Homo sapiens: one gene and its partner. The protein of the gene in region 1 interacts with the protein of each later gene in a pairwise test. Each region holds a gene or a part of one and is shown on either strand. Other genes may lie near its edges.

Region 1 (7,021 bases):
AGCTGGGGATTATGAGGCAAAAGGAAAATCCAGAAAAACTAAGGAACCTACCACCATGGCTTGCCTTGGGTCTTGAGCTCCCTAGATGATCATCACCTTTTGGAGTCTCAGGTTTGTTTTATATATAATATCCAGGGATTTTAGTTGTATAAGCAGGAGGAATAGGAAGTATGTCTATTCCATCTTCTTCACTTCTTTAAAAAACACGTTAGTCTGAATATCTTCAAATATCAGTAGTGCATAGAAAATGAATTATTTTTTACTTTTTCTTTTTTACCAACTCTTTCACAGTGTCTTATGCTGAGGTTTAGTTGCAATTACATGTAATGAAATTGAAAATTTTATTTTTTCTCTTAATCTTTATTGCAGATTCTGATGCTCACAGTACCACCTCAAGTGCCTCCCCAGCTCAATCTCCTTGTTACAGTAACCAGTCAGATGACGGCTCAGATACAGAGATGGCTTCTGGTTCTAACAGAACACCAGTTTTTTCCTTTTTAGATCTCACTTACTGGAAAAGGTAAAAGAAACAAAGTATCTCTCTAACCAGCAAACCATCTTAATTATGGGCAGTATTTTTCTACTTCCTTAGCAATTAAATGGCATTTGGCAAACAGTTGGTAACACACGATTGCAGTGGATTAAGCAGGAATTGAGCAGGGAAGTGGGATTTTTGTATGTTCTTCCTATTAAAATTTATTTAAAATAAAAATCACATCAAGGTACCTACATTGCCTATTGCTAGATAAGTGGAGTAGAAAGACAATATGCAGTGGAGAGAATCAGTAAAACTAAGAGTTGGTCCTTCAAAAAGACGTGACCAAAAATATACTAGAGATAAAGTGGATCAGGAAAAGGAGATAATACACATAAGCAATTTTAGGAAAGAGAAAAGAGACTTAGGTATAGATAAAGCAGACATTTAAAAAATAATAGGATATTATAGACAACTTGATGCCAATAAATTTGAACATACAGGTGAAGCAGGTACAGTACTAGAAAAAAGACATGTTGCTAAAGCTGTCTCAAGAAAAAGTGAAAAACGGAGATAATCTCATAATAAATTGATTCAGGCCAGGTGTGATGGCTCACACCTGTAATCCTAGCATTTTGAGAGGCCAAGGTGAGGGGATTGTTTGAGCCTAGGAGGTTAGGTTTGCAGTAAGCTATTTTTGCACCATTGCACTCCAGCCTGGTGATAAAGCAAGACTCTATTTAAAAAAACAAACAAACAAACAAACAAACCACAATAGGCAAGTTGTACTAAACATCCAGGAACAGATGATTGGAGCCTATGCACTGGCTTTTCCAGACTATGGATAAAATAGGGCATAGGCCCCAAGCATTTTTAAGGCTGATATAAGTTTGATACCAAAACAAATATATCATCAGCCACTAGGGTTATTCTAGGTATGTAAGATTGGTTTGAACATGAGACGATCAACTAATATAATTTACCACATTGACAGTTTCTTTTTTTTTTTTTTTTTTGAGACGGAGTTTTGCTCTTGTTGCCAAGCTATAGTGCAATGGCTCGATCTCTGCTCACTGCAGCCTCTGCCTCCCGGGTTCAGTGATTCTCCTGCCTTAGCCTCCCGAGTAGCTGGGATTACAGGTGCATGGCCACCACACCTGGCTAAATTTTTGTATTTTTAGTAGAAAAGGGGTTTCACCATGTTGGTCAGGCTGGTCTCGAACTCCTGACCTTAGGTGATCCACCTGCCTCAGCCTCCCAAAGTGTTGGGATTATAGGCGTGAGCCACCGTGCCCAGCCCACATTGATAGTTTCTAAAGGAAGGTGTTGTCTTCTTAGTGGTGCAAAGAAGGAGTTTGACAAATTTGAACATTCCTTTAAGGTTTAAAAAAAAAAAAGTTTTAGCAAAATAGGAATAGAAGGAAACTTTTTTACTTAGACAACAGGTATCTTACAAAAAGGACAAAAGTACATAATACATAATTGTGATAAAATGAAAGCATTTTCTCTATGATCAGGAACAAATCAAGAGTGTTGACTATCACCATTTCTATTCAGCATTATACAGAAGGTTCTAACCAATACAATATTGGTAGTAGTGTAGTAGTAAACACTTTAGAACAGTGCCTAGTGCATAGTGTAAGTACTTTAAAGTACTTTAAACCACTTTGTTTGCATTTATTTAATCTTTTTTTTTTTTTTTTTGAGACAGAGTTTCACTCTGTAGCCCAGACTGGAGTGCAGTGGTGTTATCTTGGCTCACTGCAATGTCCGCCTCCTGGGCTCAGGCAATTCTCCCACCTCAGCCGCCCAAATAGCTGGGTCTACAGGCACGCACCACCATGCCTGGCTAATTTTTGTATTTTAGTAGAGATGGGGTTTCGCCATATTGGCCAGGCTGGTCTTGAACTTCTAGCTTCAAGTGATCTGCCTGCCTTGACCTCCCAAAGTGCTGGGATTACAGGTGTGAGTTACTGCACCTGGCCTTATTTAGTCTTTATGACAATTCTGTGAAGCATTATGTGAAAACACAGGTACAAAGAGGAAGTACTTTGTTTAAGGTTACATAGTAAGTAGAGCAGGATTTAAATCTAGGCAGTTTGGCATTAGAATGATACATTTTATCATAGTGTTAGGAAATATAAAATAATGTAGTAAAATATCAAAAGCCCTTTGGAGGAGTTATGTAAAAATCATACAATATTGTCGAATAACATTTATTTATGTGTGTGTGTGTGTGTGTGTGTGTGTGTGTGTGTGTATGTATATATATAAATATATGTCTATGTTGAGAGAGAGAGACTCACTCTGTCACTTAGGCTGGAGTGCAGTGGTGTGATCTTGGCTCACTGCAACCTCCGCCTCCTGGGTTCAAGCGATTTTCCTGTCTCAGCCTCCGGAGTAGCTGGGATTACAGGCATGCACCACCACACCCTGCTAATTTTTGTATTTTTAGTAGAGATTGGGTTTCACCATGCTGGCCAGGCTGATAGTGAACTCCTGACCTCAGGTGATCTGCTCGCCTTGGCCTCCCAAAGTGCTGGGATTACAGGCATGAACCACTGCGCCCGGCCGTTGAATAACATTTAAAGACACCTAAATAAATTGAGAGGTATAGCACATTCATAGATATTATTAAACTGACTGTTAGGGAGATGATCACTTTGTAGATTCAGGGTAATTGCAGTCAAAATCCCAACATATTTATGGAACTTTACAAGCTAATTTATAATTTATATAGAAAAGCAAAGGGCCCAAAATAGGCATCTTCAGAAGAAAAAGAAAGATGTGGATAAACTTGCCCTAACAGAAATCAAGACATATTATGAAGCCATGGTAATTAATGTGTTTTGGGACTAGGAATAGAAAAATAAACCAATGGAATAGTATAGAGAGCCTGGAAACAAGGCCACATATGTATATAGCACTTGTTATGTGATACATGATGTGGGGGTGATTGGTGGGCGAAAATGGTCTGTTCAATAAGTGTTGCTAGGATATTAAGAACAACATGGTTATTCATGTGGAAAAATTGGGCTTGGGTTCCCTACCTCACACCATAGACAAACACCAATTACAGATGCATTAAAGTAGAAAATAGATTATGACTTTTGAGTGGGAAAGGATTTTTTTATGACAGAGTACTTAAGCATTTAAAAAAACCTCCAGGTTTAATTACATTATAATTATGAACTTAAATTCATCAAATAATACCATAAAGAAAATGAAATGATATCCAGCACATATATCTGACAAAGGATTAGTATCTGGAATATACAGACAACTCCTACAATGGAAGAAAAAGATAAACCAACAGAAAAATGGACACACTTAGAAAGGAATCATGAAATAACTCATTAAATGATAATGTGTTCAAACTTTTTGAAAATCAAGGAAATACAAAGTAAAATTTCAATGAGATACCATTTTATACTCATTAGATTGGTGAAAAAACTAAAATAAAGTCTATTACCAAATGTTGGGGAGAAGGTATGGAATGATGAGAACACTGTCAGTTATAGGTGTAAATAGTTATAACCATGTAGATAAATGGCCGTTTTTGAGTAAAGTTGAAGACGTTCCCATTCCTATATGCCAGCAATATAAACTAGTAAAAACCTTTAAGATGTGTCCACTGATTTATACATTAAAATAAGAGTAGATAAATAAAACTGTGTTATATATTCACAGGGTAGAATATTATACATGTTAAAATGAAATAAAGCTCTATAACAATATGTATGGATCTCAACGTTGACTAAAACATTGCAGAATACATTGTGATTCTGTGTGTGTGTGTGTGTGTGTGTGTGTGTGTGTGTGTAATGGATAACTGTGCAGTATGATTAGAGATGCCAACATACGGTGAAACCATGAAGTATAAAGAAAAGGGAGTGATAAACCTAAAATTAAGTGGGGAGAGGATGAGATGAGGTAGGATGGGACTGTGGAGGGGCCTGCAGGGGGCTTCATAGGAAATGATCTTTTTTCCCTTAGAGTATGTGGTCTGTAGGCATTCTCATTGTGTTGTCATTTTTGATGCCTTTGCTAACACACACCCTTTTTTGTTTTTTTTTGAGACAGAGTTTTGCTCTGTCTCCCAGGCTAGAGTGCAGTGGTGTGATTTCGGCTCACTGCAACCTCCACTTCCTGGGTTCAAGTGATTCTACTGCCTCAGTCTCCCAAGTAGCTGGGACTACAGGCACGTGCCACCACGCCTGGCTAATTTTTGCATTTTTAGTAGAGATGGGGTTTCGCCATGTTGGCCAGGCTGATCTCGAACTCCTGACCTCAAGTTATCTGCCCACCTCAGCCTCCCAAACTGCTGGGATTACAGGTGTAAGCCACCACACCCGGCCCACACATGTATTTTTATCTACTCAGTATTTAATTAAAAATTACCACTCAAGCACTTAGGAGTTGATAAAGAAAAAAAATTAAATATATATAAAAAATTGCTAGCTGCATCAGCCTGTTTATGGTGGCTGATTTTTTTTTCAAGAGTTGGTGATTTTGGAGGAAATAGTTAACAACATCAGGGGCAGCCTTTGAAACTGACTGCTGTCTTTCAAAATGCCGTCTTCCTCAATATTTGAGAAGATTCCAGTGTGGCCTTTAAGGCAACTGGGTAATTCCCCTTCTCTAGCTAATTGGGGTTACTCTAGGAGCCCTTTCACTTGGAATGTGCAAGATTGTAGAAGCACAACTCTTTGGTTATATTGGACTAGTTATAATAGTGAGTAGATTTCTTTTGTATTCCTATTTTTCTTCCTTATTAATGTATCTTGTTCTCCATTTTTTCTTTTAGACAGAAGATATGTTGTGGGATCATCTATAAAGGCCGTTTTGGGGAAGTCCTCATTGACACACATCTCTTCAAGCCTTGCTGCAGCAATAAGAAAGCAGCTGCTGAGAAGCCAGAGGAGCAGGGGCCAGAGCCTCTGCCCATCTCCACTCAGGAGTGGTGACTGAGGTTTTTATGTAGAAGGGGAACAAAAAAAAAAATATCTGAATTTTGAAAAACCACAAAGCTACAAACTGACCCTCTTTTTTTTTTGAGACGGAGTTTTGCTCTTGTTACCCAGGCTGGAGTGCAGTGGCGTGATCTTGGCTCACTGCAACTTCCGTCTCCCGGGTTCAAGTGATTCTCCTGCCTCAGCCTCCCAAGTAGCTGGGTTTATAGGTGCCCGCCACCAGACCCGGCTAATTTTTTAGTTTTAGTAGAGACGGGGTTTCACCACGTTGGCCAGGCTGGTCTTAAATGACCCTCTTATTTTTAACTTGGATACCTGCTATTCTGCCAAAAGACAATTTCTAGAGTAGTTTTGAATGGGTTGATTTCCCCCACTCCCACAAACTCTGAAGCCAGTGTCTAGCTTACTAAAAAAAGAGTTGTATATAATATTTAAGATGCTGAGTATTTCATAGGAAAGCTGAATGCTGCTGTAAAGTGCTCTTTAAGTCTTTTTTTTTTTTAATCCCCTTCTAATGAATGAAACTAGGGGAATTTCAGGGGACAGAGATGGGATTTGTTGTATGATAAACTGTATGTAGTTTTTAGTCTTTCTGTTTTGAGAAGCAGTGGTTGGGGCATTTTTAAGATGGCTGGCTACTCTTGTTTTCCCTCATGATAATAAATTTGTCATAACTCAGTAACATGAACTTGCCCCTAGAGGTAGTTGTTAATAATTTTGAAATATTAAGGTCTTGCCAAGCTTCTGATGATTCACACCTGTACTACTGATTATTAAGCAGGACAGACTGAGCTTTCTGTTGCAAATACCTTGGAGGAGAAAGTAATTTCTAAATATACAGAGAGGTAACTTGACTATATATGTTGCATCCTGTGCCTCCCTTCATATTAATATTTGATAAAGATTTTAATTTATGTAAAACTTCTAAAGCAGAATCAAAGCTCCTCTTGGGGAAATGGCAAGTCTTTAGGATAGGCAAGACCCTGTATGAATAGTACCAAAGCATTACCGCATGGTAGAGAACACACTCGATTAAAAATGTTAAGCTATCTGAAAAATAAAATGTGCAAGTCTTCAGGATGGCACAAAACAAAGGTTAATGCTTCTTGGGGCACATTTCTTAGAGGGCTTGCTGAGTGTGTAAATATAATCGACTTTTGTTTGTGTTACATGACTTCTGTGACTTCATTGAAAATCTGCACAATTCAGTTTCAGCTCTGGATTACTTCAGTTGACCTTTGTGAAGGTTTTTATCTGTGTAGAATGGGTGTTTGACTTGTTTTAGCCTATTAAATTTTTATTTTCTTTCACTCTGTATTAAAAGTAAAACTTACTAAAAGAAAAGAGGTTTGTGTTCACATTAAATGGTTTTGGTTTGGCTTCTTTTAGTCAGGCTTTCTGAACATTGAGATATCCTGAACTTAGAGCTCTTCAATCCTAAGATTTTCATGAAAAGCCTCTCACTTGAACCCAAACCAGAGTACTCTTACTGCCTCTTTTCTAAATGTTCAGGAAAAGCATTGCCAGTTCAGTCTTTTCAAAATGAGGGAGAAACATTTGCCTGCCTTGTAAT
Region 2 (7,716 bases), on another chromosome or scaffold:
AGAGCAAGACTCCATCTCAAAAAAAAGAAAAAAAAAATCAAACCTCACAGCACCCTTCTCCACTGACTCCCCTCACCCCCTGCAAAAAATAAATAAATAATAGAGAAATAAATAAAATAACAGGCACTAAGTAAAGAAACCATACCTTGTTACCCTGACATGAAAGGTCCCTCTTGGACTAAGAATCTCATAAAATAACTGAAACTTCTGTCCACAGACATGCTAAGGGGTAACTTCATCTATTTAAAACCACTATAAAAAGAAAGGGGAAAATGAAAAGATGATTTAGCTTATGAAAATTCCCAAAATAATGCCAGGTGTGGTGGCTCACACCTGTAATCCCAGCAGTTTGGGAGGCCGAGACAGGCGGATCATCTGCGGTCAGGAGTTCAAGACCAGCCTGACCAACATGGAGAAACCCTGTATCTACTAAAAATACAAAATTGGCCGGGTGTGGTGGCACATGCCTGTAATCCCAGCTACTTGGGAAGCTGAAGCAGGAGAATCACTTGAACCCGGGAGGCAGAGGCCGCAGTGAGCCAAAATCACACCATTGCATTCCAGCCTGGGCAACAAAAACGGAACTCCATCTCAAAAAAAAAAAAAAAAAGAAAAAGAAAATTCCCAACCCACCGACCCTGTGGGGCTGGACCCTACATAATATACTGCAAAAATCAGGGCTTCCAGGCAGAAACATCAAATAACTTTCAGGAGCATGAGAATTAGATGGGCCTGAAACTCCTCAAAATCAATAAAAATGAACATAGCAACAACGAAGCAGCATTTTCAAAAATCTCAAGAAAAGGGAGAAAACAACGAACTGTGCAGCCATTCAAGCTTTCCTTCAAGGAATTACAGCTTCAAGAGAGCAGTTTTAAACTTGCCAGAGCTCAGGGGTCCTGCAACTATAGGCCCATCAGGAGGAACCTCCTAGATGGGCTTCCTCCAACCACAAGCTGCTTACGGGTCAGCCGTAAGACCCACGGGGGTGATACATTGAATGGTAGACCCAACATAGAAAGAGAAGTGCAGTCGAGAGGGGAAGAACCATATGTGCTGTGTGTGTTCTGACAAAGTTGAAATGGCATGACTTCAAAAAAAACACCAGGAAGAGGAGGAGGAGTGGGAGGAGGAGAAGGGGGGGAGGAGGAGGGGGAGGGGGAGGGGGATGAGGGGGAGGGGAGGAGGGGGAGGGGGAGGAAGAAAAGGGAAAAGCTCCCGGGTGGTTGTGCAGGCAGTAGGGAAAAGTGAAAGGGCACCATTCAATCCAACAGGCCAGACAGTAAACCACTCAGGAGGAAAGCAGTTCTCTGTCCCTCTCTAAGCTAAGAGACCGAAGTGTTTGTCTCCTGTCCTCAGTCCTCTTCTCTGGTGGCTGTCCCCTGCAGAGCAGACTGGGACCCCACTCACTAGCAATAGGACTCCCACATCGGAACATAGGACTGTGACCCAGAGGTGCCCAGGCAGCCATGAGAGGCAGCCCGCCACCCAGAACAAGAGGCCTGGGCTTCCGGGCAGCTCCAGCCTTTGCAGCACGCAGGCAGGGCACAAAACAGGGATGTGCGAGAGAAATGAGGAGCAGAGACATGGCAGAGCCTGGGGCCCCCAGCCCCTCTTCAGAGAGGCTGCCTCTGTGGGAAGCTCTGCAGGAAAGGGGTCCTCAGCCCTTGGAGCTTCTTTCCATATTTACAGGGTAGCTGGAGCGGGGGGGTCTGGTGACAATGGGAGATTCCGGGCCAGGGAAACAGCCTCTGCCCACATATCACATACCAATGGTGTTGGCACCAAATGGAGTCTCTGGTGGGCCGGCCCAGCCACCACCACGCCTGAAGGGACTGGAGGGGCCACCTGGCTCATTTAGAAGGCAAGGGGCTGTCTCTTTTGAGATAGGGGAAGGACACCTTTCTCCTTCTTCTGCTTTTGTTTTTTGTTTGTTTGCTTTTGTTTTTTTTTTTGAGATGGAGTCTCGCTTTGTCACCCAAGCTGAAGTGCAGTGGCATGATTTCAGCATCACTGCAACCTCTGCCTCCCAGGTTTAAGCAATTCTTTTGCCTCAGCCTCCCAGGTAGCCAGAACTACAGGCACGTACCACCACACCCGGCTAATTTTTGTATTTTTAGTAGAGACAGGTTTTCACCATGTTGGCCAGGCTGGTCTCGAAGTCCTGACCTCAAGCAATCCACCCACCTTGACCTCCCAAAGTGCTGGGGTTACAGGCATGAGCCACTGCGCCCACCCTGCCATTCTTATTCTCAGTCTTATTCTCTCTGTCCCAGCCCCATCAGTCATCAATTGCTCAATAAATATGGATTAGGCACCTGCTATGGGCTATGTGTTGGCCCCCGATAATACAAAGATGAAAAAGACAAGCCCTGACCGAGGGTCATGTGCAGCATGTAACCTGTATGGACAGCTACCCACGCAGCCTTGGCCTAAGGCTGGCAGGGGCGAGGCCGGGGCTGGCACAGAGGAGCTCGAACAGGTGGAGTCTTAAAAAGCAGGAAAGGGTCTGTCAGGCGGAGGCGGAGCGGGGGTGTTCAAGGCCCAGGGTTGAGGCATGCAGCCGATGCTGTGTGGCAGGGCAAGCACTTGCTGCTGAGTCTCCTGGAAGGGGAAAGGGTGGTGAGAGGGGCGGCCTGCAAGTCTGTGCAGGCCCCTTTGCAGCTGCTAAGGGGGCCCAGACCTCATCCTGCAGGACAGGCGTGAAGCTGGGAGGGCCACTGTGGGTTTGCCCGGTAAGTCAGTCCCTCCAGCTGCTGTAGGAGGGGTGGACAGGGGAGCCCAAATGAAGGCAGGGAGACCCCAGGGCAGGGCACAGAAGTAATGCTGGTGAGAGGAGATGGGGTTGCAGCCGGGACAGAGGAAGCAGGCTGGACAAGAGTGGGTGGTTTAAAACATTGGGAGGTAAAAGCAACAGGATGGGAGAGGGGGGTGGGACGAGGAGGGAGCAGAACTGCCTGGTTTTCAACACCTTGCTAAGTCCAGGAGGCAGTTGGAGAGAGGGCTGGGTGGGGGCAGGCAGTTCCTAGGGTGCCACGACACCAGCAGCACCTAAGATCTCCACTCATGCTCACTCAGTCCACACGACACGAGGGCCCAGCACACATCAGGCACCCAGAACAAGAACAGGTGGCTGCCCTCCAAGAGCTGATTTGCATGGGAGTGTGGGAGCGGGGGATAATTAATAATAAATATAATAAGGAAATCATATAGAAAGTGGAAATGGGAAGTGTTGGGGGGGCAGAATGCTGCAGATATCCTAAGGAGATGTGCCAGAGCCAGCCCAATGCCCATCCTTCCCTTGGCTACAGGCGGCACTTGTGACTTGAATCTGAGTAGAACTGGGCCGAGGGGGTGGCATGTCACCCACAATTAGGTTCTGTTCCACAGGACTCCATCTGGGGGTGGGGCTCTCCCACGGACCCTGGGGAAGCGGCCACCCTGTGAACCGCCCACCCTCCCACAGTAGGGACTGGCAGGCAGCCCCCGGGAGCTGAGAGCAGCTCCTGCCGGCCCTCAGTCCTACAGGCACCAGGACATGACTTCTGCCAGCAATCGCATGAGGTGGGAAGTGATCCTTCCCCAGTCCAGCCCCCAGATGAGAACACAGCGGCTGACCAGAGCTGAGGACCCAGCTAAGCCTGGCCTTCTGGCCCACAGAAGCCTTGAGATAATAGGCGGATGTCGTTTTAGGACACCCAATTTGCGGTACGTAGGGAACTAACACGCGGGGCTCTGGCGGGCCTGGCGGCTCAGTGCGATCTGGGCAGGCAGGAAGTGGAGTGAGCACAGCCAGCGGCTGGGAGCACATCCCGGAGGGGCTGCCTGCGGCGGGAGGAGCGGCAGGGGCCACGTGGTGGGGGACGGCTCGCCAGGGCGCGCACGCGGTGGCGGCGGCGGTGGAGGCGTTGCCCGCCTAGCTAGGGGCCCGCGGCCTGGAGAGGCGTCGGTTCTCCTTCCGCGCTGAAGGCGGAGACAGCGACTTCCCGTGGAGGCAAGCCGTGGGCGCCGCGGAGGCGGGGGCTGGGGGTCGGCGGAGGCGGGAGCTGGGGGTCGGCGGGGGCTGGGGGTTGGCGGGGAGCGTCCTCAGGGACAAGTCTCCCAGCACGCGGCCGCGACCTCCCCGTTGGGGGTCTGGAGCCAGGAGCCCACGCGCGTCGGATCCGGAGAGTCTGGTGGGCGCAGCCTACGTGACAGGGTCGGCTCGGGACCGAGCTGCTGGGGACTGGGCCTTGCGGGGCGGGGCCGCTGGGGGCGGGGCATGAGGGTGCCGGTTCGGGGCGGGGCTTTTTGGGGGCGGGACATGGGGCGGAGCCTGGGGGCGGAGCATGTGGGGAGGTGGCTGGGGAGGAACTTTCGGGGGCGGGACACGAGGGCGGAGCCTGAGGGGGCGGGGCATGAGGGGAAGCCGGCTCGGGAAGGAGCTTTCGGAGGCGGGGCCCGCTCGGGGAGGGACCTGATTTCGGGGGAGCCTTCGGGAGGGCGCCTGCCATAGACGACTGTAAAGGGGCGGGGTCAGCTCGGGGAGGACCCTGCGGGCGTGGCGGCAGTTATGGGTGAAGCCTGAGGGGGCGGGGCCTGATCGGGGCGGGGTCTTCGGGGGCGGAGTCGGCTGGGGATGGAGCCGCTCGGGCCGAGCCCTCCACCGCCCACCATCACCGAGTCCGGCCCAGGCTCCTAGCGCGGCCGCCGGAAGGGGCGGGTCAGCGGGCGGGCATTTCCTGCCGGTGCCTAGGGCCGACGGGGACGCTGGCACTGGTGGGGAGCTGTTGGGGGGTCCCGCATCTAGGGCTCTCCTTTCCTGCCTCCGGCCCCCGCGAGGGGCGCGCGCCTCTCCCCGCCCTCCAGCAGTCCTGGTAGGGCCCGGGCGCGTCCGCGCTCTGCAGCGGGAGGTCCTCGTCGCCTCTCGTCTCCAGCCAGGTACTCACTGGGCTCCTGCCTGCCGCCTCCGGCCCAGGACGCGCAGCGTCGGTATGGGCCCCGCCGCCTCCCCGCACCCCGGCGCTCCAGGGATGTGGCAAGACCCGGCTTTGAGCACCTCCCGGGCGCCGGCCCCGAGGCCGACCTAGCTCTGCACGTGGGCCGCGGGGCTCTGCCGTTGAAAGGAGAGCCTCTAACTAGGAGCACGCACGGGACCCTGGCGGGCCCCTCCGCCTGGCTCAGATGCCTGGCATCTCAGGCCTTGGCACAGCTAGCAGGCCCCTGGCAGGCCGTGGACCCAGCAGGCTGTTTTAGTGCAGATTGCCCCTGAATCTCAAGCCCACTAATGTTCCAGTCTCTCCATGAGACCCAGATCCCTGAAAGTAGTGGAGGGAGGCGCCAGGGTGAGTGAGGTTTTCTAGGCAGCCCTTACCGCCCACGGATACCCAGAGCTTCATATTACAAGTGAAGGGTCCTCCGCCCAGAGAGGCGACGGAGCTACGCTGGAGTTGCACGACAGAACCAGAACCCCAGTCTTTAGGGGTGTGGCAAGCGTGGGTTGCGCTGTTTGTAACTAGCTAATCACTCCTGTCTACAGGCCTGTGAGGTGAGGCCAAGAAAATCGCTATGGTCCAATCCGTTTTTGTTTTTTGCGTGTGGGGTTTTTTGTTTTGGTTTGGTTTGGTTTTTTTGTTTGAGACGGAGTCTTGTTCTGTCGCCAGGCAGGAGTGCACTGGCGCGACCTTTGCTCACTGCAACTTCTATCTCCTGGGTTCAGGCAATTCCCCTCCCTCAGCCTCCTGAGTAGCTAGGACTACAGGCACGTGCCACCACGCCCAGCTAATTTTTTGTGTTTTGGTAGGGACAGGGTTTCACCATGTTGGCCAGGATGGTCTCGATCTCCTGACCTCGTGATCCGCCCACCTCGGCCTCCCAAAGTGCTGGGATTACAGGCATGAGCCACCGCGCCCGGCCAGTCCACTCTGCTTTTAAGAAATATTTTATTTCTCAGGGTGGGCAGCGTGTAGAGAAGTGAGTCATTCCAGTCTCTGCCGGTTAGCACCTGCCAGCCTAAGTTGAGTCGACAGAGCCGTTATGGAGAATGTTCCCTGACCACAGTATGTGACTAGGATTTGGAGATAAAAAAGATACGATCCTCGCCTTCAGGAGACCCTGTCGCATAAGGAGACTGCCATGTCAGTGACCAGCCACACGTGCAGTGACAAGTGTCTGGAAGAAGGAACAGTGCTGTACAGCATGGAGGACCCCCACACAGGCCTCGGGCAGCAGCCGTTAGGCTCAGTGGGTTCACAAACCACCCCCCGCCCCGCCGTGGAGTGGAGTCTGCAGAGAGCCAGATAGGTTCCCGCCATGCCCTGGAGAGCTGCCGTTTCTCCAGCTCCGCCCTGCCCATGAGGCAAACAGCTGGTCGACTGGTCTTCTGTGCTGGTTCTTGGTTCTCACCTTTGTTTCCTACCAGAGCTGGACCCCGGCCTCAAACTCCAGCCAGCTTGGGCTGTGATCCTCTATCCTGGGCACCAGGGCCCACCCCCTGCCCACCCCAGCAGAGATGCTGCTTTATGCCTGCATCCTCCCTCAGCACACGTGGCCTTCATCTTCAGTTCTGGCGCCCACCTGATCTGCCTCCTCCCACACGCCACCTCTAGATAGAGCCCTAGAAAGTGATGTTGGCCTGAAACTGAGTCACATTCATCTAAACATTTTCCTGTAGAAAAGACCAGACCCTCCTTGTTGAGATAGGAAATCTGTAGTGAGTTTATGTGTTACCTGCACTCATGAGGGAGAGGAGGGAAGGCCACCAACCTCCTCTCAACAAAGAGAATTCAAAGTATTTATGTGTTGAGTTGTGTCACTTACGACATGCATATCAGCTCCACTTTCTACCTAGGGTCAACCCTGGCCTCAAACTCCAGCCTGGTTGACCAAGAACTAATACAAAGGGTACGGAATATTATTTCTTAGAATATGACTGGGCATGGTGGCTCCCACCTGTAGTCCCAGCTACTCAGGAAGCTGAGGTGGGAAGGATGTGACATGAGGGGTTCTGCTGGCTGCTGTGGTCCATGGCAGGGGGGCAGCCCTGGTTTCATGAACTCAGAACCCAGCCTCTGGGGGATGGAAGCACTCTCCACTGGGCACGTGTGGTCCCTGCAGCCTGTAGCTTCAAAGCACGGTGACTGGTTCCAAGCCCAGTATGGTGGAGAAGGAGACTACGGCAGGAACCAGGGGGATTCGGGGGTGGAGGAGGGAAGCCGCAGGGCAGTTGGTGGGTACATCAGATCCTGTGGACATGGTGTGCAGACCCGGAACCCCGGCAGAGGAGCAAGGATTCCTTGGTGAGCAACTGATCCCTTCATCGAGACAAGGAAAGGCCGGGAGAGAGTCAGGTGGGGCTCCGGGGAGATCAGCAATGCCGTTTGAGACACTCTTGGGGGAACACATGGGAAGGGAGGGGCCGCACCTGAATCCCACATCCCCTGAAAGGCAAACCTTTAATCTGAGGTTCATGTTCTTGCTTCTCCCCAGCACCAAGAGGATGGTGGCCCTTGGCCTCCTGGTGCAGAGCATCAGTCCCACGCTGGGAGTGTGGAGAGGTGCGTGGGAAGCAAGCCATTGAGGAAGTGGGGCCAACAGAGAGGTCAGCAGCCCCTTAGCCCTCACGCTTCCAAGGAACAGAATGATGGAGAAGCCTGCAGGCAGAAAAAAGAAGACGCCGACCCCAAGGGAGGAGGCAGACGTGCAGAAGAGTGCGCTCAGAGAGGAGAAGGTGTCCGG

Evidence for each region.
Region 2: the proteins of SINHCAF (region 1) and ZFP41 interact in binary tests that used the Homo sapiens proteins (3 or more experiments, as listed by UniProt).

What each region holds. Positions count from the first base shown.
Region 1 is NC_000012.12:31,281,133-31,288,153, reverse strand, and holds part of SINHCAF (SIN3-HDAC complex-associated factor), read left to right. Parts: intron 1-369; coding exon 370-520; intron 521-5,282; coding exon 5,283-5,442; 3' UTR 5,443-7,021. UniProt on the Homo sapiens protein: Subunit of the Sin3 deacetylase complex (Sin3/HDAC), this subunit is important for the repression of genes encoding components of the TGF-beta signaling pathway.
Region 2 is NC_000008.11:143,242,223-143,249,938, forward strand, and holds the start of ZFP41 (zinc finger protein 41 homolog), read left to right. Parts: upstream 1-4,716; 5' UTR 4,717-4,920; exon of another isoform or gene 4,921-5,527; intron 5,528-7,467; 5' UTR 7,468-7,621; coding exon 7,622-7,716. UniProt on the Homo sapiens protein: A putative DNA-binding regulatory protein associated with meiosis in spermatogenesis.